Linked DNA regions of Homo sapiens: region 2 is linked to region 1. The links come from fine-mapping of genetic effects on plasma protein levels. Region 1 holds a variant in brackets. A gene starts in the other region. All regions are shown on their reverse strands.

The links. PIP is the posterior inclusion probability: the model's chance that the variant is causal. Protein levels are from antibody-based Olink assays in UK Biobank. Linkage for the fine-mapping came from a reference panel and not from the study's own genotypes, which makes the PIPs less certain.
Region 2: it holds the start of DTX3, and the variant in region 1 is fine-mapped to the plasma level of the DTX3 protein (UK Biobank, PIP above 0.99).

What each region holds. Positions count from the first base shown.
Region 1 is chr1:223,724,285-223,740,565 of GRCh38, reverse strand. The region is part of intron 2 of CAPN2 (calpain 2); the gene reads right to left. LOC105373046 (a long non-coding RNA gene) reads left to right here. Exons shown (of 3, transcript XR_949169.3): 1 at 1-677; 2 at 1,451-1,580; 3 at 1,782-2,104. Among named protein-coding and RNA genes, the nearest start is that of CAPN2, 20 kb to the right of the region's middle. RefSeq lists enhancers at 1,722-2,237, 5,807-6,667, 8,442-9,037, 12,415-13,075. The variant G/C (reference allele first, on the strand shown) is at 7,823.
Region 2 is chr12:57,604,502-57,615,699 of GRCh38, reverse strand. It overlaps DTX3 (deltex E3 ubiquitin ligase 3), which reads right to left and starts at 10,876. Exons shown (of 7, transcript NM_178502.4): 1 at 10,842-10,876; 2 at 9,969-10,129; 3 at 9,448-9,510; 4 at 9,182-9,257; 5 at 8,087-8,835; 6 at 6,963-7,180; 7 at 5,898-6,623. The coding sequence starts at 9,182. The coding sequence ends at 6,548. It overlaps ARHGEF25 (Rho guanine nucleotide exchange factor 25), which reads right to left and starts at 4,265. Exons shown (of 15, transcript NM_182947.4): 1 at 3,709-4,265; 2 at 2,556-2,770; 3 at 2,341-2,436; 4 at 2,184-2,260; 5 at 1,940-2,006; 6 at 1,581-1,684; 7 at 1,300-1,369; 8 at 1,095-1,184; 9 at 919-1,011; 10 at 683-733; 11 at 386-463; 12 at 1-188. The coding sequence starts at 3,805. RefSeq lists a silencer at 3,853-4,372 and enhancers at 10,482-10,994, 10,995-11,198.

The DNA.
Region 1 (16,281 bases):
CCTTTCTCAGCATTCCACAAGTTACTTCCTCCTTCCTTTGTTCTCCTCTGCCTTTGCCTCTTTTAAAAAGTTCTAAGTTGTTAGCCAATCGGGACAAATACAGAATGGGAGGTCCTGTTCCAGCCAATGGAAACTGGACACAGCAGTAGGGTGGACGCGTCAGGTTATAAATGACCCTGTCTCCTTTGTTTGGTGTACTCTCGTGGCAAAACTCCTGGTGAGTGTACCCTTTCACAGAAAGTATAAAAATGTCCTTGCTGAGTAAATTAAATTTATGTTCAAGTGCTATTTCTTTACGGCACCAGGGAACAAGCATTTCAAACAGAGGTGACTCAATGGTGTTTCAGCGTCCAGGTGGCACGGTGTTCTCTCACTCCACCTCGACGGCCCATGTCCACAAGAGGGTTCCTCCCAACAAGAAGCCTGTTCTACAACCTCAGCAGTTGTAGACTTAGTCCCATCTTTCCCAGCTGAGGGTCCAGAACCTTGGCTGTCCCCATCAAGGTCAGAATCTACCTTACGTAAAATAATTTATGAAAACTCTTTCAGATCATCCTGCAGTGATTTCTTCCTGGTCAGGTGCCCTGGTTGAAGTCCATGACGTCTCTTCCTGGCAAAGCCTGTTTAGAGCTGTTATATCCTGGTCCGGATAAAATAAGCCAGCTAGCTCGAGAAGGGTGAGACGAAGAGTTTAACTCAGATGCTACAAATAACTTTTGGCTTAAACTGTTTTTAGCTCCAGGAAAGCCCCTGAGGGTGCCTTCCAGTGACGGAGGCCTCTCCTGGAATGTTGCCATATGGATGGGACTAGAAAAAGAAAGACCTATGGTTTTAATATTATGTATCTGCAAATAGTATTTTCCTTGTGCTCATTTTATTTTTGGAGGAGGGCTCTGCTCTCCAGTCACACAAAAATTTTGGCAGAGGGGAGGGTGGGATGGCTACTCAGACCTTGGTGTACCTCAGAGGACTGTCTGAACAGTGCACTTGGCACAAGCAAAACTCCTGCCTTCCTCTCCGGGGGGAATGTTCAGTTGTTACAAGCTCTTAGCCTTCCTGCTCAGGTACAAAATCTGCTTATGGGCCAGGCATGGTGACTCACACCTGTAATCCCATCACTTTGGGAGGCCGAGGTGGGCAGATCACATGAGGTCAGGAGTTCAAGACTAGCCTGGCCAACATGGTGAAACTCCATCTTTACTAAAAATACAAAAATTAGCCAGGCATGTTGGCACGCGCCTGTAGTCCCAGCTACTGGAGAGGCTGAGGCATGAGAATCACTTGAACCTGGGAGGTGGAGGTTGCAGTGAGCCCAGATTGCACCACTGCATTCCAGCCTGGGGCACAGAGTGAGACTCTGTCTAAAAAAAAAAAAAAAAAAAATCTGTTTATGCTTGGTTACCTGTTGATAACCTTTTGATCCTTAATTATTCCATTTATCTGAGAGCAGAAACTATTGTCTTGGGAACTTGAGTGCCTGGATCGTGGTGAGCTGGAGCTGAGTGCCCGATACATTCCAGCTGCCTCTTCATGTCCAGTCTACACCCTCCATCCTGCTGCCTGGGAGCTGATCTCTATGGGTATCTCACCGGGGGCCCAGGGCCTATGGCTGCTGGGGGCCAGAAGAAGGGAGGAGTGCAGTTAGGGTGTTTCTTCCCTGGCTCCTTCTCTGAGAGCGTGGCTCGGCTCCATGTGGCTGTGTCCCGTGACTGCGGGGCAGGTTGCACCTGCACATGAACCACTTTCACTGCTAGAATCTGACAATTGTCCCCAACTCACAGCTCCAGACCCTCTTCTGGGAAGGACTCAGCCACGCTTCCTCCTCGGATCACAGAAGACTCCAGATGCAAGCTGTCTGTTTGCAACAGTGTGCAGGGCTTCTCTGACTGGGAGGCTGCTCCTGTCAGCTGTTCACCTTCTTCACTGACTCCAGAGTGTGCACGTGAGCCTGCCTGGAGGCGCTTGGACAATCATTTACCCCATTTAAAAAAAACTGGCCTGCGTTCTTGACTGCAAAAACTCATTATCATAAAAATGCCATGTCCTCTTAAGTTAGCCTATAAACTTAATGTAATGCTAATAAAAATAGCAATAGGGCTAGGTACGGTGGCTCATGCCTGTAATTCTAGCTCTTGGGAGGCCAGGGCTGGAGGATTTCTTGAGCCCTCAGGATTTCAAGACCACCCTGAAATCTCACTATACTGTGAGACCCTGTCTCTATAAAAATTATTTTTAAAAAATTAGCCAGGTGTGGTGTCATGCTTCTATCGTCCCAGCAACTTGGGAGGCTGAGGCAGGAGAATCACTTTGAACCTGGGAGGTCAAGGCTGCAGTGAGCTATGATTGTACCACTGTACTCCAGCCTGGGTGACAGAACAAGACCCCGTCTCACAAAAAAGAAAAAAAAAGGTAATAAGATTAAAAATTGTTTTTGAACTTAGCTGATTCTGATAAGTTTATTTAAAAATTAAATATGAAGCATAGCTAGAAAAAAATCTAAGAGAAGGAAGTCTACCTCTATTAGATGTTTAAACACATAAAAAGCTACAGCAATTAAAACAGTATAGAACTTGTGCATGAGGATATAGATAAATAAATGGCACAGAAAAAATCTAGAATCAGACCTTCCCTGTGCTCCCCTGGGGGCACAGTGAGATTCTTTTATGGCTGTTGGGTGTCAACACTAAGTATAGGGCCCATCTGTAGCCCCTAAGGTGCTTTTGAAAGCATGCATGCCTTTTTTTTTCCCCTCTCCCGGTTTTGACACATTCCCTTCTTTCTGGGTTGTTTTTCTTTTAGAACTGACTGTTTTTCTTTACAGTACATGGTGTTATTGTATTCTCTCCCCCCCACCCCCCGCCCCGTCTCTTTTGGTCAGGCCTTAAATTCTCTGTGGAATGAGGTAAGGCATATGTAAATACTAAGCAATTCTGCCTAAGTCACTGTAAAGCTCCCACTCCCATCTCTCATCTGCCTTTCTCATCCCAGGAGCCTGACACCTGCCTCAGTCTGTCCAGCACCCTGGACATGAGCAAGGACAAGTGTCAGAGCTGGGTCCCCAGGGGACTCTGCTCATCCATGGGACAGACGGTGTCTCTGCAGAGAAGGAAGGTGGCTACCGATGACATCTCCCGCTAGCAGGGCCCTGGCTGTTGCTGGCCATGTTTATTACTAACGGCAGCAGATGAGGCCCTGCCTGGAGGTTCCTAAGCTGCCCCGTGAAGGTCCTGACCACGGGCTTGACAGACCGGCCATCCCTATATCCAGGCTGCCTCCATACCCAGCCATGCTTCTGTCCTGGAAGACACTCAACTGGCACAGACCTGAGAGGCTGGGGATGGAAAATGGAGGGGTTTTCTGCCTTGCTTCCTCTCCAGAAAAAGCCCACCTGGGTGCCCCACGAGCCTTATGCTTAGTCAAGCAGGGGCTGCCTACAGGATGGGATTTTAGGGGCCTCCTGTCCCTTCCTCCACAAATCTCCCCTACATCTGGTCTTAATTTCTTTATTCTTATTTTTATTTTTTTTTGAGACAGGTTCTCACTCTGTCACCCAGGCTAGAGTGCAGTGGTGCAATCACAGCTCACTGCAGCCTTGACCTCCCGGGCTCAAGTGATCCTCCCACCTCACCTTGTAGCTGGGATTACAAGCACATACCACCATGCCCAGCTAATTAAAAAACTTTTTTTGTAGAGGTGTCTTGCTATGTTGCCCAGGCTAGTCTCAAACTCCTGGTCTCAAGTGATCCTCCTGACTCAGCCTCCCGAAGTATTGGGATTACAGGCGTGAGCCACCGTGACCAGCCTAGACTTAATTTCTACAAGTGGCTCTCACTCTACATTTAGAGATCAGATGGGCTGCAAATACCCAGGGGGAAGGGAACCCTTGGATTTAAATGCTCTCGTGTGAAAAGGACTGAAAGCAGGCTTACTGGGGAAGATGGGAGAGGTAGGGTTCTGGGAGTCTGGACCCAGCACTGTTGAAAGGAAATCACCCAGGGCAGATGGTCCAGGGTTTCAAGGCCAAACTTGCCCCTGTATCTTTTGGTTAGGTTGGAACTGAGATTTTCCACCTTCCCAAATGGGGACCTCCAGGATCCCTGTGAAAGGCAAGTGTCACTGGAGGCTGGTGGTTGCCTGCTCCCTCAAAGCACTGACCTTACCGCTTGATTCTGTCACCTTCCCACACATCTTTTTGTCTCTGGGCACCAGGAGGCACCTGCCCGATGCCATCCTCCTGGGGTTCCTTGGCTTCTAGGCGCTTGACTGCCCTCTCACTCCCCTTTGGCTGGCTTTGCTCCTCCAGCCCAGCCCCTGAGGATCTCTCTTCCTGCCTCCCTTCCTGCCCAGGGCTGTGTGCTGCCCTTTCTACGTTGTCCAGGACCCCTCCAGCAAACAATCCCAGAGGCGGGGTCCCTGCTGGCCTAGTGGACAGAACCGGGGCACTCTGGGCAGGGGTGCTGGTCACTTGGGTGGTGAAAGGTCCCGAGTAGGCTGGGTGCGGTGGCTCACCCTGTAATCTCAGCACTTTGGGAGACCAAGGTGGGCAGATCACGAGATCAGGAGTTCAAGACCAGCCTGGCCAACATAGTGAAACCCCGTCACTACTAAAGATACAAAAATTAGCTGAGCATGGTGGCATGCGCCTGTAGTCCCAGCTACTAGGGAGGCTGAGGCAGGAGAATCACTTGAATCCAGGAGGTGGGGGTTGTAGTGAGCTGAGATTACGTCACTTCACTCCAGCCTGGGCAACAGATCGAGACTCCGTCTCAAAAAAAAAAAGAAAAGAAACGTCCCAAGTAGGTGGCAGGCTGGCAGGGGCGGGGGTACCTTTGCTGGCTGTCCCCCTCGCTGCTGGGCACAGGCCAAATGGCTCCACGGAGCACCCCACAGCCACGTTGAGCCTTCAGGTGGTTCTCAAACCAGAAAGGAGTATGGTGGAAAGACATCCCAGATAGATCTAAGAGGCTGGACCAGAGGTGGTTGGGGAGGGGCACTAGATTTGTGGTTAGAAGACCACAAATTTTTTTTTTTTTTTTTTTAGATAGAGTCTCACTCTGTTGCCCAGGCTGGAGTGCAATGGCTCCATCTTAGCTCACTGCAACCTCTGCTTCCTGGGTTCAAGCAATTCTCCTGCCTCAGCCTCCTGAGTAGCTGGGATTACAGGCGCCCACCACCATGCCCAGCTAATTTTTGTATTTTTAGTAGAGATGGGGTTTCACCATGTTGGCCAAGCTGGTCTTGAACTCCTGACCTCAGGTGATCCACCCGCCTTGGCCACCCAAAGAGCTGGGATTACATGCATGAGCCACTGCGCCCAGCCAGAGGACCTGGATTTTGGTCCTGATCTGGCCACTTAAGATTGTGTGAGCTTGGATACACTTCTTAATTTCTCTAAGCTGGTGTGTTCTCAGCTGTGAAAGGAGGATCATGATGAGGTGTATCCTCGGCAGGTTGTTAGGATCACGTGAGAGAAGGGAAACCGGGGTTCCATGGATGGGCTTTAGAGACCTGGAACCCCAAATGTTTTGTGCAAATTTGGCACACATGCAAACACATGCTGTTTTCTAGGGAGAGCAGTCTGGTTTCTCTCCCACTCCCACCCCGAATGGTTGGGAAACACTAGAGCCAGACCATGGAGTTCAAATCCTGACTGTGACCTGGGGAAACTACTCCCTCTGTGCCTCAGTTTCCTCATATATAACATAGGTTTAATAATAATAGACTGTCTCATGGCACTGAGAATTAAATGAAAAAAATATGCAAAGCATTGAGAACAGTGTCTCCAAGTGTTTGCTCTTTTCATTTGCTAATTTTATAGGCGTGGAAACTGAAACTCAAGGGAAGTGGAGTTTCGATTGGTACATGGTGTGCCAGACCTTGGCCACATTTGGCAGTCTTGTCCTCGAAAGGGTGCCAGGGTTGCCAAGGGTGCCGGCTGGTGAGGGGCAAGGAGAGAGGGTTGTGGCCGGGGGTCAGTGAGGAGGGAGGGGAGCTGCGGGGGAGAGTGAAGCAGTGCATAAGGTGTCTGTCTCACCGTCTTGAGCCTTCCGAAACTCTTCTTTGGAAGCAAGGGGTGTCCGAATAAGGAAGAAATAAAGGTAAATAGTGAGCACTGGGCGAGGTGTCCTGGTGTGTGCCTGTGGTCCCAGCTACCTGGGAGGCTGAGGTGGGAGGATGGGTTGAGCCCAGGAGGTGGAGTTTGCAGTGAGCTGTGACAGCAACACTGCACTCCAGCATAGGTGACAAGGCAAGACCCAACTCTTTTTAAAAAAAGAAAGTACATTTTTTAAAAGAGGGGGAGCACTGAGAAGGGTGTAGATACAAAAGCATTTGCTGGTGACACGAGGGTGGCCACTACAAAGAAGAGTGGCCACCCAGGCCTGACCGGGTCTCCAGCCGGGACTGTGGAGCCTCCCCTGCACTTCCCTGTAGCGCTGGATCCCGGGGCTGAGAACAGCAGCTCCTGGGAGAGGCTGGCCTTGAGGTCCCTTCCCTGCTTTTCTCCTCACATAACAGAAGGAAAGACGGCCCCTTAACAGCCTCCCTCCTCCTGAGTCTGCAGTTGGGACCGAGTCTGCAGTTGGGACCCAGTCTGCAGTTGGGACCGTTTCTCTCCCTGCACCCCTGGGCTGTCAGTTCTCTCAGGGAACGTTTACCACGTTTGTGCCTATGGCAGATGAGCATTCCTGTATTCATTTGCTCATTTGTTCAAAGACTTTTTAGTGTCATTCTCTCTGGCCCATTCTGGGACACCCACTGGGCTCAGTTAAGCCACTTTTGCCTATGGGTCTCTGGGAAATCCTCTCTGAATTCAAGCTTCCTCCACACCTTCTAATTTGTTTGGGAAAGGAGGTTTGATTTGTGTTTTTGAATCGTTAAGCACAGCAGCCTTCCCCTTCCAAGACTCACGTGACCTGGATAAGGGCTTCACTGCCCCCAGCAGGGCTGCCTTTCTTGGGGACCCACGGAGAGCACACCAGGTAGCCAGCCCTTCCTTCCACTCCAACCCACCCAGACCCTCCTCTGAGGACAAGGCACTCCCAGACAGACCTTATGAATGACTCCTTTAAACTCCAGGGCCTTCTACTGAAAAGATAAATTCATTCAGGGCCATGTCAGTAAATTTCCAGAGCTGTGCTCCCCAGCCTGGGTGTCTGCATCCTGAAGGTTGGCTGTGTGACAGGCCCAGCCCATCCTGGGGGGTGGGATGCAGCTGGATTACTAATATTTGCAGCTCCTGGAGGTTTTCCAAGAGGAAAGCATAATATTTGCTCTGCATTTTCTCCTTCTTTCCCTTCCGCTACTGCTGTCTTTCCTTCACAAACAGAAGTGAGGCAGAGTTGGGGAGCCAGGGGAGGGGGAGTGCAGGAGAGGCTGGGCTGAGGCACACCTGAGCTACCTGTGGCTCTGTCACACTATAGTGCAGAGGCTGCTGACAGTCCTGCAGGACAGGAGGTGTGTGGGCAGGTTGGTGCTGGCTGTCACAGTTACACCCAGTGCCTGCACTGGGAAGAATTGCGCTTGGTGAAGTAAAACACGCTGGATACCAGAGCAACCCCCAGGAAATAACTGGGTTTTCTTATTGTTTTCTTTAGTCCCTTTATTTGTAGGCACAGCTGCTTAAAGAAACAAGCTGGCCCCTGATGGTGCCAGAGCTTCTTGACCTCTGCCCAGATACCAGAGGGAGATAAGACCCCCAAAACTGGCAGAAACTGGAACAGGCAACCCCTTGTTACCTTCAGAACTTTACCATGTCATTATAATGCTAACGTCCCCACCTGTAGAAGAAAATCACCATTATTTCTGAACATGTGTCAGAGGC[G/C]TGTGAACTAGAGCAACTCCATCTTGAATAAGAGCTGAGTAAAATGAGGCTGAGACCTACTGGGCTGCATTCCCAGACAGTTAAGGCATTCTAAGTCACAGGATGAGATAGGAAGTCGGCACAAGATACAGGTCATAAAGACCTTGCTGATAAAACAGTTGCAGTAAAGAAGCCGGCCAAAACCTACCAAAACCAAGATGGTGACAAGAGTGACCTCTGCTCGTCCTCACTGCTACACTCCCACCAGAGCCATGACAGTTTACAGATGCCATGGCAACATCAGGAAGTTACCCTACGTGATCTAAAAAGAGGAGGCATGAATAATCCACCCCTTGTTTAGCATATAATCAAGAAGTTTAGCATATAATCAAGAAATAACCATAAAAATGGGCAATCATCAGCCCTCAGGGCTGCTCTATGAAGTAGATTTTCTTTTATTCCTTTATTTTCATAATAAATTTGCTTTCACTTTACTGTATGGACTCACCCTGAATTCTTTCTTGAGCGGGATCCAAGAACCCTTTCTTAGTTCTAGATCAGGACCCCTTTCTGGTAACACATCTTGCATTGTATGGAGAGGCATGTTTATGACCTGGGCCTGAGCGTCTAGAGGTCTCCACCCCCACACCGTGACCCCACACCTGCTTACACACCTCCCTGCCCCACACCTATCTCCTTACAACTCCCCAGTTTCCATGGCTCGGGGTGAAGGTGTCTTTAGAGCAAGAGCCCCCTCCTTCTCTTTCTCCTGGTCAGGAATAAAACCCTCTTGCCTTTTTTTCCAACTGAGTGTTCTTTCTTTGCAACTGATACCAAGTAGGGAAAGAACTCAGCTTACCGGTGACACACTCACACACACGTTTCACACACTGGCCAAGGGAGCTCATCTTGGAGGAAGAGCAGGCAGAACACAGAGCTGCTACGGGGCAGCCCAGACTCCCAGATGCCTTCCGCTGCCTCCACATCCCTCACTCCATGCTTCTCGCCTGGGGCCCAGCTTGCCGTGCCTCTGCACACCTCTGTCCTCGCGTAAGTCAACTCTGGAGGACATGTCTCTTTCCCCTCCAATCTAGTCTCAGGCTCCTTGTTGGTGCATTCCTGGCTCCGTGCCAGGCCTGTACTCAGTCTAGAGGAGACTGGCGCTGGTTCTGAGGCAGTGAGCTCACAGCCGGCAGGAGACAGACGTGGAAACTGGTTGTGGATGATGGTGGTGAGCATGAGGCTTTGAGTCTGAACAGGGCAGACTGGGACTGTAGGAGGGCTGGGGTGGGCGAGGAAGGCTTAGAGCGGGGAGCTGGGTGAGGAAGAGCAGGGGCACTTTCAGGGAGAGGGAAGGTCAAGTGCAGAGTCCAGAACAGGCAGGCAGCAGGACGGGCATTGTGGGGCTGGGCATTGGGAACTGGAGAGGGCTGGGGCTAGGCGGATTGGGTTGGATGTCCGGGCCAGCTTAGGAATCTGAACTGGCTCCTAAGGGAATTTAAGCCAAACTTCCTTCTCTTCCTTTCCCCTTCTGCACCAGACCCTCCAAGCATAATAAAATATTTGCCTTTTTCAGAATGAATCACTCCCTGCTTCCTCTTTGTGGGAAACCTTCCTTCCAACTCTCCCTCCTTAATCATCCTTTGGGGTATCTCTCTTAACCCCTTACTGTTCCCCTCCCAGATCCTCACACTGACTCCCAGCTGACTCCCAACATGATCTGAACTTGGAATTAATCCATCCATTTAATAATTTGCCTCCACTACTTCCATAGCTCCCTGAGGACAGGTTTTCTGGCAGCAATGCCCAAAGTGGATTAGATACAAGTATACATGCTCCTTAACTTACAACGGGGTTACATCTGAACAAATCCATCAGAAGTTGAAAATATTGCAAGTCGAAAATGCATTTAATACACCTCAGCCTACTGTAAACTAAAAATCAAAGTCTAAGCCCCTTAACTAACTGAATGGGTGCCCCCTTAGTCAAGGGGATTCCAAGGTAAACCTGAAAAACAAGTTCAGGCCACGATGGGAAGGGAGGTCCGTCATGCCTCATTTTATCCTCCTCCTTTAGGAATTCAGGCACAGCTGACCAGCCTTAACTGAAAACAGAGATCTTAAGACTCACAAAACAGACTCTTCCTAGCAATAAGATACCAAATTCCAACCACACTCTAGTAGAGCATCACATGACAGATAGCAGGCCCTGAAAGAAATCAAAGTATTTTAGCCCAAAATATATTTTTCTGACAGATTTTGAAATGTCTCTGAAAGCTGTCTCTTGTGGGAAAATCTACATTCTATAGCAGGGGTGTCCAATCTTTTGGCTTCCCTGGGCCACACTGGAAGAAGAAGAATTGTCTTGGGCCACACATAAAATACACTGACACTAATGATAGATGATGAGCTAAAAAAAAAAAAAATCTCATAATATTTTGAGAAAGTTCACAAATTTGTGTTGGGCCACATTCAAAGCCATCCTGGGCAGCACGAGGGTTGGACAAGCTTGATGTAGAGAATCACCTTCCCTTCAGGTCTTTTTCTGATCCTGAAGAGATTAGCTGAGCATCTAGTAGCACCTTTTAAAGGTCTGAATAGAAAACATTTGCCATCTATTGCCTTTGAGAGTGGCCCTCTGTGAGACTTCATCTACATAATAAAAACCTTGGTCTCTAACAACTTCTTATCTCAACCCAGGCACACTTTTCAACTGATTTCAGGTTTTCGTTTTTTTTTTTTTTTTTTTTTTTTTGGTTTTTTGGGAGCGAGTCTTGCTCTTGTCTCCTAGGCTGGAGTGCAGTGGTGCAATCCTGGCTCACTGCAACCTTCACTTTCTGGGTTCAAGCGATTCTCCTGCCTCAGCCTCTGAGTAGCTGGGACTACAGGCATACACCGCCATGCCCAGTTAATTTTTGCATTTTTAGTAGAGGCGAGGTTTCACCATGTTGGCCAGGCCAGGCTCGAACTCCTGACCTCAGGTGATCCACCCGCCTTGGCCTCCCAAAGTGCTGGAATTACAGGTGTGAGCCACCGCACCCGGCCTTGATTCCAGGTCTTTAGATAGTAACTTAATGCTTTCAATTAACTGCCAATCAGAAAAATCTCTGAATCCACCTGTGACTCGGAGCCCCCTCCAGCCCCTGTGCCTTCCCCATCCACTTCAAGTTGTCCCGCCTTTCTGGATTGATGTCTGCCTGTAACTTATGTCCTCCTAAAATGTATAAAACCAAGCTGTAAACCAACCACCTTGGGCACAGGTTCTCAGGACCTCCTTGGGCTTTGTCACAGGCTTTGGTCACTCATATTTGGCTCAGAATAAACTCTTTAAATATTTCACAGAATTTGACTATTTTGTTGACACTGCCTAACACCATAGCTTAGCCTAGCCTACCTTAATTGTGCTCAGAACACTTACAGTAGCCTACAGTTGGGCAAAATTATCTAAGGAGGCAAAGCCTGTTTTAAAATAAAATGCTGAACAACTCAATGTAATTTATTGAATACTGTACTGAAAGTGAAAAACAGAATGGTTGTATGGGTACTTCAAGTACAGTTTCTACTAAATGTGTATTGCTTTCATGCCATTGTAAAGCTGAAAAATTGCATGTCAAGCCATTACAATTCTGGGGCCACCTGTAGGCATCCTGAGCCAGACTCCAGGTGAGAACTGAGGCCCGCCTTGGAGTAATGGGGGAATAGAAGAAAATGGCGGCTTGGTGATGAGTTAAGGACCGAGAATGGAGGGACTGGTTGGACACAGAAAGGGAAGAACCTTGTATAGAGAAGGGATTGTGTTTTGCTTTTGTCTTTTTTGCTGAAGTCTCAGCCCACTGCTCTTCCTATAACAGATGCCCAGTAAAGCTGGCTGAATGGAAGCAGAAAGGCAGTTGCTGGCTTGTGCAAGTCAGGGCTCCTGAGCCCCATGGGCATCTCAGAACGCTTGGGGGTGAGTGGAGTCCTGAAGCTGGCACATCAGCCCAGCTTGTGAAGTCCTTCACTACTGTGTACCTTGGGAAGTCCCAGAAAACACATCCTCCCCACCCCGCAAACCATGAAGAGCTAATGTCCAAGCAGCTTGGGTTATTACTGGTAAAGGACAAGAAGGCCATTATTCAAAGGGGAGGAATCGTGGTGTCTTCCAAAAATGGTGGCAACAATGTTTCTGGTTTCACATGTTCTTCCAGAACCCTGCCACTCTCCATCTAGAAGTGGGCTCCATGTCCCTTCTCTTTGATCCTGGGTGAGCCTTCATTGATCTCAATGAATAGGATATGGCAGAAGTGATGCTATGTGACTTCCAAGCCTAGGTCGTAAAGATGAGACAGCTCCCAGGTCTTTCTCTTGGGACATGAGCTGCTGTAAGATGTTCAGCTACCTTCAAGTCCCTGTGATGGGGAGACCACAAAAGAGACAGAGATCCCTGGACCCCTGCTGATCCACCCTTCAGCCCGGGCACCAGACATGTGGTTGAGGGGGCCTACAGATGACTCTGTCCCCATCCCCATCTGATTGCAACCACTTGAGAGAGCGGGAGAGAGTTGCCCAGCTCAGCCCCGTCATCCTTCAGAACCATGAGAGAGAACAAAATGCCTTGTGTTTCAAGCCATTTGTTTTGGGGTGGATTGTTACACACTAGATACAGGTGTGACAAAACAGGGAGCTTGTGCTTGGGAGTCTGAACTGTAACGCATACCAGGGAGCCAGGGATAGTAAGATACACCTGCTAACAGAGTCTCCCACCTGGGGGTGCCAGCAAGAGAATGGAGCCAACACTGAGAAATGCCAGTGTCAGGCCACCCAGCTGCTCTGCAGTTCCCAAGGTACCCTGGACCTGAGATGTTCCCACTGTCTCCCTGCTGATGTGTGGTTTGGAAAGGCACCTGAGCTAGGAAGCTGAGCAGACGGAATGGCCTGCCAGTGGAACCATTCTCCAAGAAGCAGGGAGGGCCCTTCTCCTCCTTTGCTGTGTTCCTCCCAATGCTAGTGGGAAGCTTGAAGCTCCCCTCCCACAGGCTCAAATATCCCAGCAATGCTGCCCTGACCCCGTACATGCAATGTTTTCTCCTTTCCTACAGTATTTACTCATACTTGCGGCTGGATTAGATTGAAGCAATGCTGGAAAGAATATTTAGTTTGTCTTCAGCAACTCACCTACTGATTACCACTGCTATTCCTACCTCCCATCCGGCCACTCCCTTGCACCAGGCTCCCCAAATGGCATTCTGTGTGCCCAGTGACCCCCACAGTACCTCCCCCTTCACTCCTGCTCTGCCAGTGGTTCTCAACTGGGGGCATTCCATGCACCCCCCAACTCCGCCAAGCCCCCAGGGGACATTTGGCAAGGTCTGCAGACATTTTTGAGTGGCACACGGGGGTGTGTGGGTAGAGGCCAAGGATGCAGCTAAACATCCTATAATTCACAGGACAGCCCCCTACAATGAACAATTATCCAGTCAGTTGTGCCAAGGTTGAGAAACCCTGATGGATCTCAAATCGTACCTGTTTTGCGTTATATTTCTTTAGACCTTTTGTTCTTTTGTTTTGCATGCTGACAGCTAGATACACGATAAACAGACCAAGCTACTGAAGACTGCTCCTGGCTAAATTTCACCCTTCCTGAGACAACAGCATTTTAACAATCTCCAGCAGACCTGACACCCTGTCCCAGAGAGACACATCTCTCAAGGTCCTAGGCAGCCCAAGAAGGCGGAGAGCCACATTTTCAGGCAGCTGTGGGTCTTCGCTTTGGAAGGGAGGAGAAGGAACCTCTGAAAAGCCAATTCAGGGCCATCCCTCTGAAACTGGCAGGGAGGGGCTTCTCTAGAGGAAATGCACACCCCGCCAGCGTGCTAGGCCTGCGAGAGGGTAGCTGATGAGTCACCCTGGGCCATCCCTTTGTTACTCATTTCAGAGTCTGGCAGCAGCCCAGAAAAGGATACCCCCAAAGTGGAATTCCCCATGCATGTACAATCATCCTTCATTTGTATCAGGGGCTGGGAGGGGAGGGGGCAGATCCTCCATTTTACTCATGCCCCACCCTTATTAACAAGAAGTCTTCAGCCTCCTTCCCTAAACTGCACACACATCAGAACTGTGAGCCACAGCCAGTGATCCAAACCACGTGTCCCAGGCCTTTCCTTTCCCTTCTCCCTGCCCTATCTGCCAGAAGGGAGGCCCTAAAAGGGAGGATGGGAGGGAGGCGAGGGTGCTGGGGCTTGACATTCACTCTTCCTCTCTCTAGTCCCTTGCCTGTCTCAGCCGTGCCCTGGACCAGAAGGACATAACCTGTTGCATGTTTTGTCGTTTTTGTGTCCCTGTTCCCTGCAGCCCTGACCCTCCTGGGCCATCGCCCCCACGGTCACTAGTCAATATCAGAGTTTTTATCTCCAGTACCCCAGCAGAGGTGGCTGCTCCTTCCTGATGGCTGCCCTCCCCCCAGGCGCAGGCAAACCCACCCTCTTCCTCCCCATCCCTGCTCTCATCACAGACCCCACAGAAGAAGGGAGGAGGAGGTGGAACCTTGCCCTCGGCTGCCAATTCCTGTCTTAAATTCCTGCTCTTCAGGAACTCTCCTTTCTTAGCTCCTGGAGGAAGCCCAAAGACAGTATCTATTTTCCTGACTTCCTGAGGGGATTCACAAAGCTGAACTACTAGTCTTGCTTGGGCTGGGGTAGCAAAATACAGGAGAAACATCATCCTGAGAATGGGCCCAACAAGAATGAACGTGGGAAACTTTCTCACTCGGATCCTGGTCTCCCGAGAGACGGAGGAAACCCACGAGGCCCTGGGTTCCAGTGGCACCTTTCTGTCACATAGTCTTAAAGTTCCCTGCATTGTAGGAAAAGAAAAAGAAAGGACGCAAACATCGTCATTGTTCCCATTTCGCAGATGGGTGAGTGGAAACTTATGGCTAGAGATCACAAGGTACTGGAAGCACGTGTATGTGCTGGGATAGGAGAGAGTCCACGTTCCTTGGCACTGAAGGGCCTCTGGCCCTTTGTGGGAAACATCAGGAGGCCATGACCATTGTGTGACCAAAGAAAATTACAGCAGGAAACTCCTCTGAGTTTCCGGACCTTCCCCCTGGGACACCACCTCCTCTGTCATACCCCTCTCCAAAACTTAGGTGGCCGCCAATGTCAAGTGCTAAAGCTGGGACCCAGTCGGGTATTCAAGATGTGCCACAATGTGTCTCCACCTCAGCGACGCGACCTCATTTGACAGTACTCCCCTCCAGCTGTACTGTCCCCAAAGAGAACGTGCAATCTGCATGGATTAAACCTTTACTATGTACCAGCCTCTGGAGCTCTGAGCTTTATATGTCTATTATTTCATTTCATCTTTACAGTCCTCTGAGGTAGACACAATTTTTTTTTTTTTGAGATGAAGTCTCGCTCTATTGCCCAGGATGGAGTGCAGTGGTGCGATCATGGCTCACTGCAACCTCCACCTCTCAGGTTCAAGCGATTCTCCTGCCTCAGCCTCCTGAGTAGCTGGGACTACAAGTGCATGCCACCACGCCCGGCTAATTGTTTGTATTTCATATTGTAGTTTTGTAGAGATGGGTTTTCACCGTGTTAGCCAGGATGGTCTTGATAGTAGGCACTATTATTATCTTCATTTCACGGATGAGGAAACTGAGGTGTGAAGAGGATAGTGATCCACTCAAAATGACAGAGCCAGTATGTGGCAGAATAAGAGGCCAGTCCCTAACTGCCAGACACCAAGTCCTCATTCGCTACCCTGATATTTACAGATGTTTATTGATGTAGGTTTAGCTGTTTGTTTTGAGACAAGGTCTCACTCCATCACCCAGGCTAGAATGTCATGGTGCAATCACGACTCACTGCAGCCTTGACCTCCTGGGCTCAAAGTGATCCTCCCACCTCAGCCTCCCAAGTAGCTGGAACTACAGGTGCACACCACCATGCCCAGCTAATTAAAAAAATTTTTTTTTGTGGAAATGGGTTCTCATTATGTTGCTTGGCTGGTCTTGAACTCCTGGGCTGAAGGGACCCTCCCACCTCAGCCTCCCAAAGTGTTGGGATTACAGGCATGGGCCACCATGCCCTGCCTGTTTATTGACGTCTGTGCATTGTTTGGCTCTGATGTGAATACTATCCCGCTTTGGAGAGTAAAGGCTGAGAGGCTGGATTCCAGAGCGCAACAGTCTGCTGCTGTGCAGTGCAGCAGCCACAAGGAACATGTGGCTATTTACATTTAAATTAAATAAAATTACAAATTCAGTTTCTCAGTTGCATGAGTCATATTTCAAGTGCTCCACAGCCACACAGGGCTAGTGCTGCTGTTTGGAGCAGTGCAGATATACACGGTTTCCATCATCACTAGAAGCTCTATGGGACAGGGGTGGTCTAGAAGTGGCCTCACTGCACACCTGCTGGCCAGGCCACCTCCTCCTGGGGCTCAATCATCCAGACAGTGTTGCTAGCCAGGACCCCAACAGACCTCATGGAACCC
Region 2 (11,198 bases), not on the chromosome of region 1:
TTGTATACATATCCAGGCTGTGTTCCACCTCTCACTCCTCCTCCCAGGGCTTCACTGAAGATGATGATTTGCTCAAAGAGGAAGACGCGCCTCTCTCGACCTCGGGAAGACAGCAGCCCTCCAGCCTCAGGCTCGGTGACCCAGAAAGTGTCCTGGCCCAAGAGCTTCCCCTGAGCAGTCAGTTTGCCCTGAAACCAAAAGGATAGTGGCCTTGGAAAAAGAACAAGAAAAAGGACAATTCTCTGCTCCTCCCTTCCTCGCCTGACATGCCCAACCAACCATGGGGTCAGCCCCAGGAGAAGACAACTCCCCATAAGGACCTCCTGAATGCTAGGGCTGGGGCAGAAGAGCATCGGGCCTCCAGTTTCTTGCCCTATCTCCGTACCTCAAATCCCCGCAATCTCCCCAGCGTCATCATATCGTTGCAGCGCTTGGGCACAAAGCACATGACCTCCACAGCTTGCTGGGACACAGGTGAGGGAGGCGCATTGTTGGGCGAAGAGAGTCATTATTGGGAAAGAGGCCTCCTCGGCCAGTTGCCTCTTCAGACGGTATCTCAACCCCAACCAGCCTCCCCCTAAAAACCAGACAGCTGTAAACCACCCAAGGGGCTGGGGGAACCCATGAGATACTAGGAGGATAAGGAGCACATGGTGTGTCCTGGAAGATCTGGGGTCCTCACCTCTAGGTCTGCAGTATCCATCCCAGCTCTATTGTAATACTTGAGAAAATCCTAAGACAGAGAGAAGAAATGCTCAGGGAGGTCACGAGGACACCCTTAGAAGCTCTCACATCCTCCCCTGAGGACACCAGTGAGGGCCCTCAGGAAGTCTGGGGGAGCCCTAAGAACCCTGGGGAGATGAATGAGGAAACAGCTGTGCCAGCCAGCTGTGCCCCCAGGAAAAAGGGGGTCCTGACCTTGAGCAGCAGCTGGTATTTCATGATCCGCTGCACAGGTTTGATGAGGAGGTCGTTCAGCTGCAGGCGGTGCCCCAGCTGCTGCCGGAGCTCCTGGGGACAGGGACAGGGTGGTTATGCAGCCTGGAAAGCCCCAGTTCTGTCCTCCTTCCCACCAAGACATCTCAGCTACTGACCTCAAAGTAGCTGTCCCCAAACTCTGACACCACATGCTCTGACTTGGGCTTATTCTGACAGTACACCACATACATATGCAGCCGGCGCTCCTAACAGGGGTAATGTTTAAGAGAGAGCAGGGTGGGCAAGGAGGGAGGACGCATCTCCAGAGAATCCCAGCCCATTCCTAAGCCCCGCCCCAGGCCCTGCCCCCTCAAGCCTCACGTGTTTGATGAATAGCTGAGCCAGCCAATCAGGATCTTTCAGACACCGTTGTAGCTCTTGCAAGAAATAGCTGGAGGGGTTGGTAGAGAAGCAGCAGGTCAAATACATTTCACAACCCCCACCTCGCCCACTCCCAGCAGTTTCGAGCTGTCTGCCCTGGTAGTGTGCCCTACAAAACTTCTCCAAACATTCCTTAAGTCGCAATGGGCTGATGTTAGGATACAGGACAACCAGATGAGGGCCCCTCTCCAGCACCTAGCTGTCAGAGTTCCACCACTCACTCTCGGTGCCACTCATAGATTTGCTGGATATTCCCAAACACAATCCTGTCACGGCCTCGAAGACTCTCGGGGACCCCCTGAGCAGCCATGGTGGCCATATAACCCTGTGGGAAAGTTGAGGTTGGGTCATGAGCATGTGGTGGCCCTCTCCCCACCTTAATGGTGCTCCTGTACACAAATCCAGGGTGTGTTCCACCTCCCCCTCCCTGGTGGGAGCCGCCCTGCCCCCAGAGTAGGAAGGTCCAGGAGTGGGGAGGCTTGAGAGGTGGGACAGAGGAGCGCCCAGGCACCTCCTGAAAATAGCCCTGGGCAGATGGAAAAGCAGGCAGGAGGGGCTGGGAAGGGGTAAAGGGAGCTACCTCCACAATCTGCCCCAAGTCGTCCACGTACATTTTCTCTGTTTCTACCAGTTCACTCAGGACATACCTAGGATGAAAGCAGGAGGAGGCCCCCACTTCAGCGTCGGAGCTCATCCTTGGTTCAGCCCGTTCCTCCCTCCTCCCCTTTATCATCATAGCCAACCTTGGAGGAAATTCCATCTAAAATGTGAGGGACAGTCTTCTGGAAGTTGTGCAACTGCAGGGAAGGGCTGTGGACACTTACATACTCCTTTCCAGAGCCTTCTTCTTCTGTTCCTCCTCACTCTCAGGGGCTTGGGACAAAGTCTCCTCTTCAGGTGGCTGGAAGGAAAGAACATCCTAGGGTGAGCAAACGAATGCCCCTTGAGTGAAAGGAGCCTCCCCAGAGCCTGTCCTCACACCTGCGTCTTATCTCCAGGGCCCTCCAACAGTGTGGTCAGCAAGGTCAGTTCCGGCAGCTCCTCTCCTGTGGCTAGAGCTGGCTCCAACATCCAGTTCTGGGGGCCAGAAATCAAGTGTCAGAGGTCGGGGACAGTAGCTGGGTGGCCCCAACTTGCCCTCTCTGCCAGTGTCCTTCATAGATGTCCCACATGCTTTGGTGCCGTTCCCTGCTCACCTCATATGGTCCTGCCTGACCACTGTCTGCCTCAGTTTCCACACTGAGACAATGTTTGGAATGATCCAACCATCTCCTCAGGCCACTGACGGGCCCTGGGGGGCCTGGGGAACAGGGGCCAGAGCTGAGGCCAGAGCTGGGGCCAGAGGGGGCAGCCAGACCGGAGGCAGCAGAAGCCGATATACTCCCCTCACTGCCCGCAATGGAATAGGATTCTAATGGGAGGAAAAAGAGAGGAGGTGATAGACCTTGCCCCAGCTCCAGACTCAGGGTCCCCAGGGAACTCCCAGGGTCTTCTCTTCATGATGCTCAGCCTCTCTCTCCAAGGGCTCACTCTCTTGCCATCCTCATTTGAGTTGGCCAGGATAGAAAATTTCACCAGGGCACCCCTGGGAGAAAGCACAGTAAGGTAAACGCCTGGCTCTCCAGGCCTGGAACCCCCAGTTACATGTGGAGGTTCCCCATATCCTGAGCATAGCATAGATATGGGGGTGGGGGCAGCCATCTGGGCAGACATTGGAAGCTGGGGGTGGCCATCTGCTCTCCTACAACCCTCCCTCTTTCAATGGGTACAGACCATTCTCTGGGAAGAGGGGAGGATGAGCTGGGTCCATCTGCCACTCCCAGTCCCCTCCTCCACCAATTGCAGTAATCACTATAAAAAGAAAAGACTTCTGCAGCCCACCTCCCCAACACATGCGTAGACCCAATAGAGGAGGCCAGTGAGGAGGGTCCATCAGGGTTATCGTTGGCCTGTGCTCAGCGACAGAGAGCTGTGATTCCTTATAAAGCCCCTTGTAGAACCACCTCATTCTCATTCCTCCATTCTCCTGTCCCTCTTCAGAAGTAGATTCTTAGCAAAAGGTTTGAGGAAAATAATCGGTTCTAGGCCTAAGGGGATTGTGGGTGGGTTTTTCTCAAACCCATTTGACAAAGGGAAAGAGATGAGTTCCCTGCCCCTTCCCCTATTTCCTTAACTTGAACTAACAGAAATTTGGAGGCAGAAGGGACCTTAGGGATCACTTAAGAAACCACTTTCCTGGAAAACACATACAGTCTCCAACCCTAAATCCCAAGGGCCAGGGCAAACAGATGCCCTGAACCCCCAGCCCGCCCCCCACTCAACACTGGACCCTCTCGACCTGGCACTCACCACGTCCCCCCCGGGCGAAGCAGCAGCCGCATTTTGCCAGCACTTTTCGGATCACACGGGGACAGGCACAGCGACCCCCTTTGTGCCCCCCCCGCATGGCGCCCGGGCCCCCCCGCGCCCCCCACCCGGGCCGGCCATGCAGGGGGAATCACGGGGGGCGGGGCGGGGACGGCGCCGGGCGCACACCCCCCCTCCCTCCTACCCCGGTCCAGGCTGTGGGAGGGGGGGAGGGAGGGGACCGGGAGGAGGTGTCCAGGGGTAGGCGGAAGTCTAGTCTTGAGGAGGGCTGGGGGCTCTAGAGAGAGAGAGGCGCGGGGCCCGGCCGCCGGGCTGGGCGGGGAGGGTTTCCGGAACCCTGTCGGTGCGGGGGCCTAGGGTCCAGATGTCCAGTGGAAGGGGGAGGGATGGTAGGGGAGGCTGGGCCGGGATGCGGCAGCCGCTCCAGCTGTCTCCGGCCTCTGGTTAGGGGTGGCTCTAGGCCCGGGCCGGGGAGGAGGCGAGGGCCGACCCCCGAGCCACTGGCGCTGTGCGGGTCCCAGCGGAGCGGAGAGCTGAATAACAGGCCTGGCCGCGGGGCCGCCACGAGGCGGGGCCTCTGCGGCCCAGCTCCGCCCTCTCCATCGCGTTCCCCCTCCTGCCTGCGCCGGGTTCCCGCCCCGATCGCCCCTCCCCCAGACACCACCACGTTCCCACTCCACGTCCCCAGCGCTTTTTCCCCTCCCCAGCCCGTGCTCCCCTGCCCCGGGGTCCCCCTCCCTCTCGCATCCCGGGCTCTGCGGAGCGCTGGGGTCGGGGTTCAGCCTGTCTGCAGGGTCTGCCCAGGTCTCCCCTTGGCCTCTGCGATGAAGGAGGACTCAGTGGATGGGGCCTTGGCCTGTGCGAAGATGTTCTGGGTTTGGGGCTGTCCCCGGCCGAGTGGACAGAGGCCCCCTGGTACGGGGTGCGTGTATGGGGAGTCTTTTGTGGGTGAACACAACCCAGATGCCGCCCTCTCTCAGGACCCTTCTTTCCTCCAGGCCCCGGGACTCCAGCTAAGACTAATCGCCAATTAAGGCGAAGTCCTGGAGCCCGGGCTGGCGAGGGGCCAGGGGTGGGGCGCGGGGACACTCTGCCTGCGAGGGCTCGGGATCGACTGGGATGGGGGACACACATTGGACTCGAAGGCAAGAAGAGTGGAGGTCTCTGCGATTAAATGGGTCTCATGCAAATTAGATGCGAACTTTATGCTAATAAGAATAGAATATTTTTGAATTCGCCACTTGGCGCAGGATAGCAAACTGTGCCCCACCCCACCCCCAGCTTCTTACCGGGCTGCAGAGCCCCGGCGAGGACCTCATGTTCGCGATCCCTTCTGTGATCTCCCTCCGTACGTTCAGACTCTGGCTCGGTACCCACCAACCCTAGAGGGCTTCTCCTTGGGGGCTGCGGGGACAGAACCACTGTAAGGAACCTGCCCTCCTAGGCAGCCCTGACCTCCCCCTTCCCCTTCTCCTACCTGTCAAAACCCACATTGTTATAAAAGGCTCGCCCAGAACGGGGCTATGGCCCTCGTAATAGAATTCATGTATTCCTGCGACTGCCCCGCAGAACTCGTTTTCGGATAAGTTGAGTTGTGGGTGCAGCCCTCCTGAAGGCCCCGAAAGACCCCCGACCCCACCGCGAGCCCCCATTCTTACCCCCTCCTGCCCAGGGAGGGCGCATGCGCGCAGCATGCCCCCCATGACCCCCAGTATCCGGTCAGTGCGGCCAGGGGCGGGGCGGTCCGGGGGCTTCATACTGAACCCCCACCCTGCTCCAAGTTTCAGGGTCGAGGGGGCACTGAAGCTGGGGGGCTTTGAGGCCTGCGCGCGTCCGGGGAGTTGCTGCTGCGGAATCCGCCCCCTGCCCGGCTCCGCCCCCACTCCCACCCCAGCCAAACTTCGCAGAGTGGCTAGGGTTGTTTTCTCTACAACCATAGTTGAACAACAAAAAAACACCCTCTTAATACTAATTCCAACATCGAAGTGACCCAGGGTTTCTCAGTGTTACTACAGAGCCCGCTGGTGCATCCCGTTTCCCCAGGTCCTCAGGAGGCAGAGGGACTGGGAGTGCACGCAGGGATCACCCCATCATCCCCTCTCCCCTTTCCAGCAGGTCCCTCTCCCCACCCCACCCCCACCCAGTCCCTGGAAAAGAACGGGTGTGGCATAAAGAGTTGCATATTTTACTTTATTTTTATTAAATTAAAAGCTACAGTCTGGCAGCGATTCCAGAACAGGGTAAGGAGGTTCCTCACAGGGGTCAGAGAAGAGCGGAGAAAGACAGACTGACGGAGACTGAGACACAGGAGAGAAAGGACAAGGTTAAGGGAGAACTGTATCTGATGAACACACACAGCCGGCTCCATGGCGGGTGACGGGGAGCTCACATCAGCCCAATTTCTCCTCCCCGGCACCCGAAGTTCAGCGGTGGAGCAGTATGTGGGGGCGGTTAGGAATCAAGAGACCCTCCCTTCCCCACCCTAGGTCCTTTCTCGGCTTGGTCGTGGAGCACAGCACATACCAGAAAAAGCCAAGGGCAATGGAGGGGCAGGGAAACCGGGAGTATATGTACACGGGGAGGGGAGAACAGAGCCTTGGAGGTCGGCCTCTGCCAGAAGGGAGTGGCTCACACTGCATTGAAACACTTGGCCAGTGGGGGATGGGGGAAGGGATTGCCCCCTCCCTCTCGGAACTCCCTTCCCAGTCAGACAGGTCCCCTACAGGTGTGGTGTGGGGGGCAGGGGGCAGAGAGGAGAAAGAGGCTTCTGCTGGGTCCTAGTAGAGGCAGACAGCAGGGGCCTTGGCAAAGGCGATGTCCTTCAGTCATCTGTGATACCCTTCGCTCTCAGCTCCTCTTGCACCCGGGTCAGGTAGGTGGGGTCTGGGTACCCAAACCTGGGAGCAAAGAGAAATGAGGGTGAGGGTTGTTAGCTGTTTGAACTTGCTATTATCCCCATGCTCACCCTCATTCTAGGTGGCTCAGACACCTCCCCACCTCCCCTAAGGGAGGACACCTCCAAATCCAAGATAATTTAGCCCAGTTCTGCTTATTTTTGTAGGCTAAGCTGGGCACACCAGGACCAGGTTGAATGTAGGAGAAACTGAGATGGCTGAACAGTTTGGAAGTGGTTCTCTCCAGTTAGGAGGCTCCGTGAGCGAGGGGTTGGTGGGTCCCTCAGTGGAAATGGAACAAAGGGGAGGAGCCAAGGGAAAGGAAATGAAGAGGGGTCGCACAGCTGGGGTCCCCCTGTGCAGCTGGTCTTGTGGTGGATGTCGTTCCAGGTGATGACATTCGGTCTCCCTGTGGTCATGGACGTGCCGATAGTGAAGGTGAGACGCTGGTCAAACGCCTTGCGGAACAGGGTCAGCACCTTGTTGCCCTCAGGGCAGTCCGGGAGGTAGGCCACCCGTGTGGTGCCAGGATACCGAACTCCTGGGTTTGGGTGTTCAGCCTGGGAGGAAGGTGAAGCAGAGTGGGCAGTGAGCAGCCAGGCATCCTAAGGCCCAGATGCCAGAGGAGGGTCATCCAGGCTAGTCTCTGTCTGAGCACCCCCAGCTAATGCGAACGGGGCAGCAACAGGCTGACAGCTTTCCACAGAAGGAGAGATTATACGGCCTCGGCAGCAAGAGCCTGTTTCAGAGCATAATCCTTATGTGTTAAGAGATTTTTTCTGCTGTCTCAATCCCTCAAGTCTCCATTCAGCAACAAATGGATTCTCAGAAGTGATGGAAGTTAGCTGGTCCCTACACTCCAGACAACTCAGCAAAAATGTGAAGACAGAATAATCTATCTTTCAGCCTTCCCTTCACCTGAAAATACTCCTAATGTTTCTGCCACTGTCTAACTTGTTCCATTTTCCATCACTCTTCTGTGCAGCTTCTTCACCCCTCTGCAGCCAGAATTGCACATTACTCTTTGTCCAGCAGGAAGACACCTATAGGCCTTGACTACTCCTGTTTTTACAGAGTGATGCTCCTGGCTCTGTTGGGTTGGTCAGATCCCTTCCTATTGTGCCTCCCTTCCCCTAAGCCACCACCTCCACAGAATTTACCTCTGCCAAGATGTCAGCACAGTATTTGTGTTCATCAAGGAAATAATATGCAATTCCTTCCTCTCATATCTGATTTGCTTTTTTTTTTCCTAGCTCATATCTGATTTTCACGTGTGCCTTGGGATCACAGGGATGGAAAGGCTGGGCCTCACGGGGACCTCCTAGGTCCAGGGCACTGAGTAGGAGGGCACAGTGGAAGACAGCAAGACTGTCTCACATCTAACAAGCACACTCACCCTCACCCGGTTTTCCTAGGTCAGAGCTTGGGGAAAGCCAAAGGGTAAGGGCAGGCCATGGTCTTCTTACCCCCTGGACACCGGGCGGGAAGACGTACTGGATGACAATGGTGCCGTACTTCTCATAGCTGGGCAGTAGGAGGGTGGCGTCCTTAGAGACCAGCATCCGCCCATTCTGGGGCTGGTTGCCCACCAGCTGCCCATAGAAGCGGCCGCACATGGGGCAGGCCTTTTTCACCTGCAGAGCCCGGGTGATGCAGCCCTCGCAGAATGAATGCCGGCACTTCTCCAATGTCTTGGCATTCTGGATCTCCCCCAGACAGATGGGGCAGGTGCTCTCCTGCTCTTCTGCCTCCTCCCGAAGGCGAGGAGGAAGAGGTGGGGGCAGGGGGGGAGGAGGAGGGGGGAGCCCCCGAGCTCCTGGGGGCAGAAGTGGGGCTGCTCGGAGAGGGGGTGGGCCTGCGCGGTGCATCTCAGGGTGCTCCCCTCCACCCCCCAGAGCCAGGCAGCCCATCAGCTCCCCCTGCCTCTGAGCTTTCTTCAGCTCTTTCTCTGCCTCTTTTAGCAGCCCCTTGAGAGCCTTCCGGGCTAGGTAGAGCCCATTTGGAGGGGCCGGGGGAGGACCCTGTGGGGAAAGCTGGAGAACATAGATGTCAGAAGTCTCGCCATCTATGAGGATGGACACACGGTGCTCCTCCCGAAGCCGGGCCAGCCGGGCTGGGGTCTCTTTGCTCAGGAAGTCCCACACGGGCTTGGACACAGTCACTTTGTTCTTGCAGGTGCCTCCACAGGCTGCCATTCTGGACAGGACGAACGACACTGCCCCCAGGGTGAAAGGGACTCAGGGTGGGGGGTCCCCATTTGACAAGTATCAGTGCCTCCTACTTCAGGTTCCTTCCAAACCCTCTATTACCTCTGTTTTCTCAAAGCCTAATCCCCAACCCTTCACCCAAATTCATATTCTGTCTCCCCTTATCTTCCAAACCCAAAACCCACTGAAGAGCAAAAAAGTTTCCAGAGCTATATTATCATCTAAGCCAAGTATCAGTCTTGTTTCTCCTGTCATTTCTCCCAGATCATAGAAACAACTTGCCCCTCCCACCTCTTGGGGAAAAATGGGCTGTTTAAAGGGGAGGGAGACTCTTTGCCCCTCCTTTTTGCTTACTTTGATCCTGAAGAGCTTAGAATTGGCATGCAGGCTCACTCTTCTTTCCCTGCTCCCTACTTGTAGGTCGTGTGACCTGGTAGGGCGGAAAAATGGAAGGAAAGTGAGAAACCCCTTCTCCCAATTCCCATGGCCCCCAACCCAGCAGCCCATGGAACAGAGACAGAAACCTGGGTATAGGTTACTAAGAATGGCATTACTTGGAACATGGAATGAAGGAAACCAGTTTAAGGGTGAAAATTGAGGATCCCTTGCGGGGGAGATACCTGGAAAGCCCATGGAAGATGATGGCAGCAGAAATCCTTCTATTTCCACTCAGCTGACCAGGACTGGGAGTGGGGGAAGGGTAAAAAGTTATGATGGCAAATGTTACCATTCCCCTCAGCCAACCCAGAAATAAAAACTCCCCTTCCATCTCCTCTCTTCTCTGCAGAATTCCATTATCAGCTTCTCCCCAAGTTGCTCAAGAAGGAACTTCAACATGCTAACCTTCCTCCTTTCTTCCCCAGCTCTGAGGCCCCCAAGAAAGCCTAGGGCACACATAAGAGAAGTCAGGAAAGAAAACGCCCACACAGGTGGAGGTCTTCTTGCCACCTCCCTCAGATCACATGGACCGGAATATTTCCTATGCTCCCCAACTCCTCGCCTGCTCCACATTGCCAAATAATTCAGCCCCTATTGCCAGGGAGCCTTCCTTGAGAGCTAACTCAGTCCCTTCTGCTGAAGTCTGTTAAGGATGTGAACAAAGTGGCAGCAGCCCCTGCAATAACAAAGTTCTCATTGTCACCTTTTAAACCCAGCACAGGCAGTGCTGTCTGTCAGCTCCCAAGTCTGGCATTTAGGGAGGGGCGGGGCTCACACAAGGGCTCAGCTGGAGGGGCCTGATGTTTTCCCTGAGTCTGGTCGCATTGGGCTACGGGGCTGTCTCCACAACACTTCCAAATGCAGCTCAAACAGAAAGAAGGGCCATTAGTGTGACCTCCATTTATTGACTGATCCAAGAAGGAGCAGCTGTCCCTTCATGCCTCCATCATCGTCCCCCAAGGCCAGATGCACCTCGAGATTCATAAGTGAAAATGGAACCCTAGAGTCTCAGCCCATACAGTCTATCCGCGATGCAACACTTCTCTCCCCATCACGGGGGACCCAGGACCTAGGTGTCCTAGGTCCAAGTCCTGCTGGCACAGAAAAGGGAGGCGGGGCCCCAGTTTAGGGTGGGTCTGTGATTCCTCTGTGGCAACCCAGGCCGGACAAGGAACCAGTCTCTCCCTCCAGACAGAGGCCAGAGGGAGGCACAGCCCGGATGGGCAAGGGTCCCTGGGGGCATCCACTGAAGCAGCTCCCGCCCTCCCCCCACGGCCTCCTCCAAGACCCGACCCGGAACCAACTCCCCACATCCCTCAGTAGCCAAAGCCCCCGGATCCCCACCGCCGGGTGGGGGTGCATGTCGGCCCGATCGCAGCCCTCAGAACCCCCGAATGGAGGCCAAGGCTGGAGGGTGCTAGAAAGATGATCGGCCGGGCACGGAGCGGGGAGCCCGGAGCCGCGCGCGGGGAGGGGAGGTGGAGGAGGGGGCGCCGGGGGAGCGGGGGGCGCGTGAGGGGTGCGAGCGGGGCCCGGGGGGCGCGCGGTGGGTGTGGGGGGCGCCGGGCTCACCTACCTCTCGTCAGCGCCGCCATTGCCGGTCACATGACTGAGGCTGTTGCTGGGATGACGGTCCGGGCCTTAGCAACAAGGAGGGGGAGACCCCGAAAGGTGGGGGATTGCAGGGGGTGCAGGCTGAGGAAAAGGGAAGGAGGGAGGACAGCACCCCCTTTCCCCTCACAGGTGATAATCACCGTTCCTTTGACCCCCTTCTATCCGCAAGCCCCTGCCCTTCCTCCCCAAAACAAAAATGGAGGCGCTGTCCCAGTCTTTGGAGGGAGGGGGTGGCGTCATGGAACTGAGGGTAGGAGGTTAAATCCCTGGAGACGCCACCCTACTCGCTCCCCGCTCCCGGCGGAGCACTCTCCCTTTT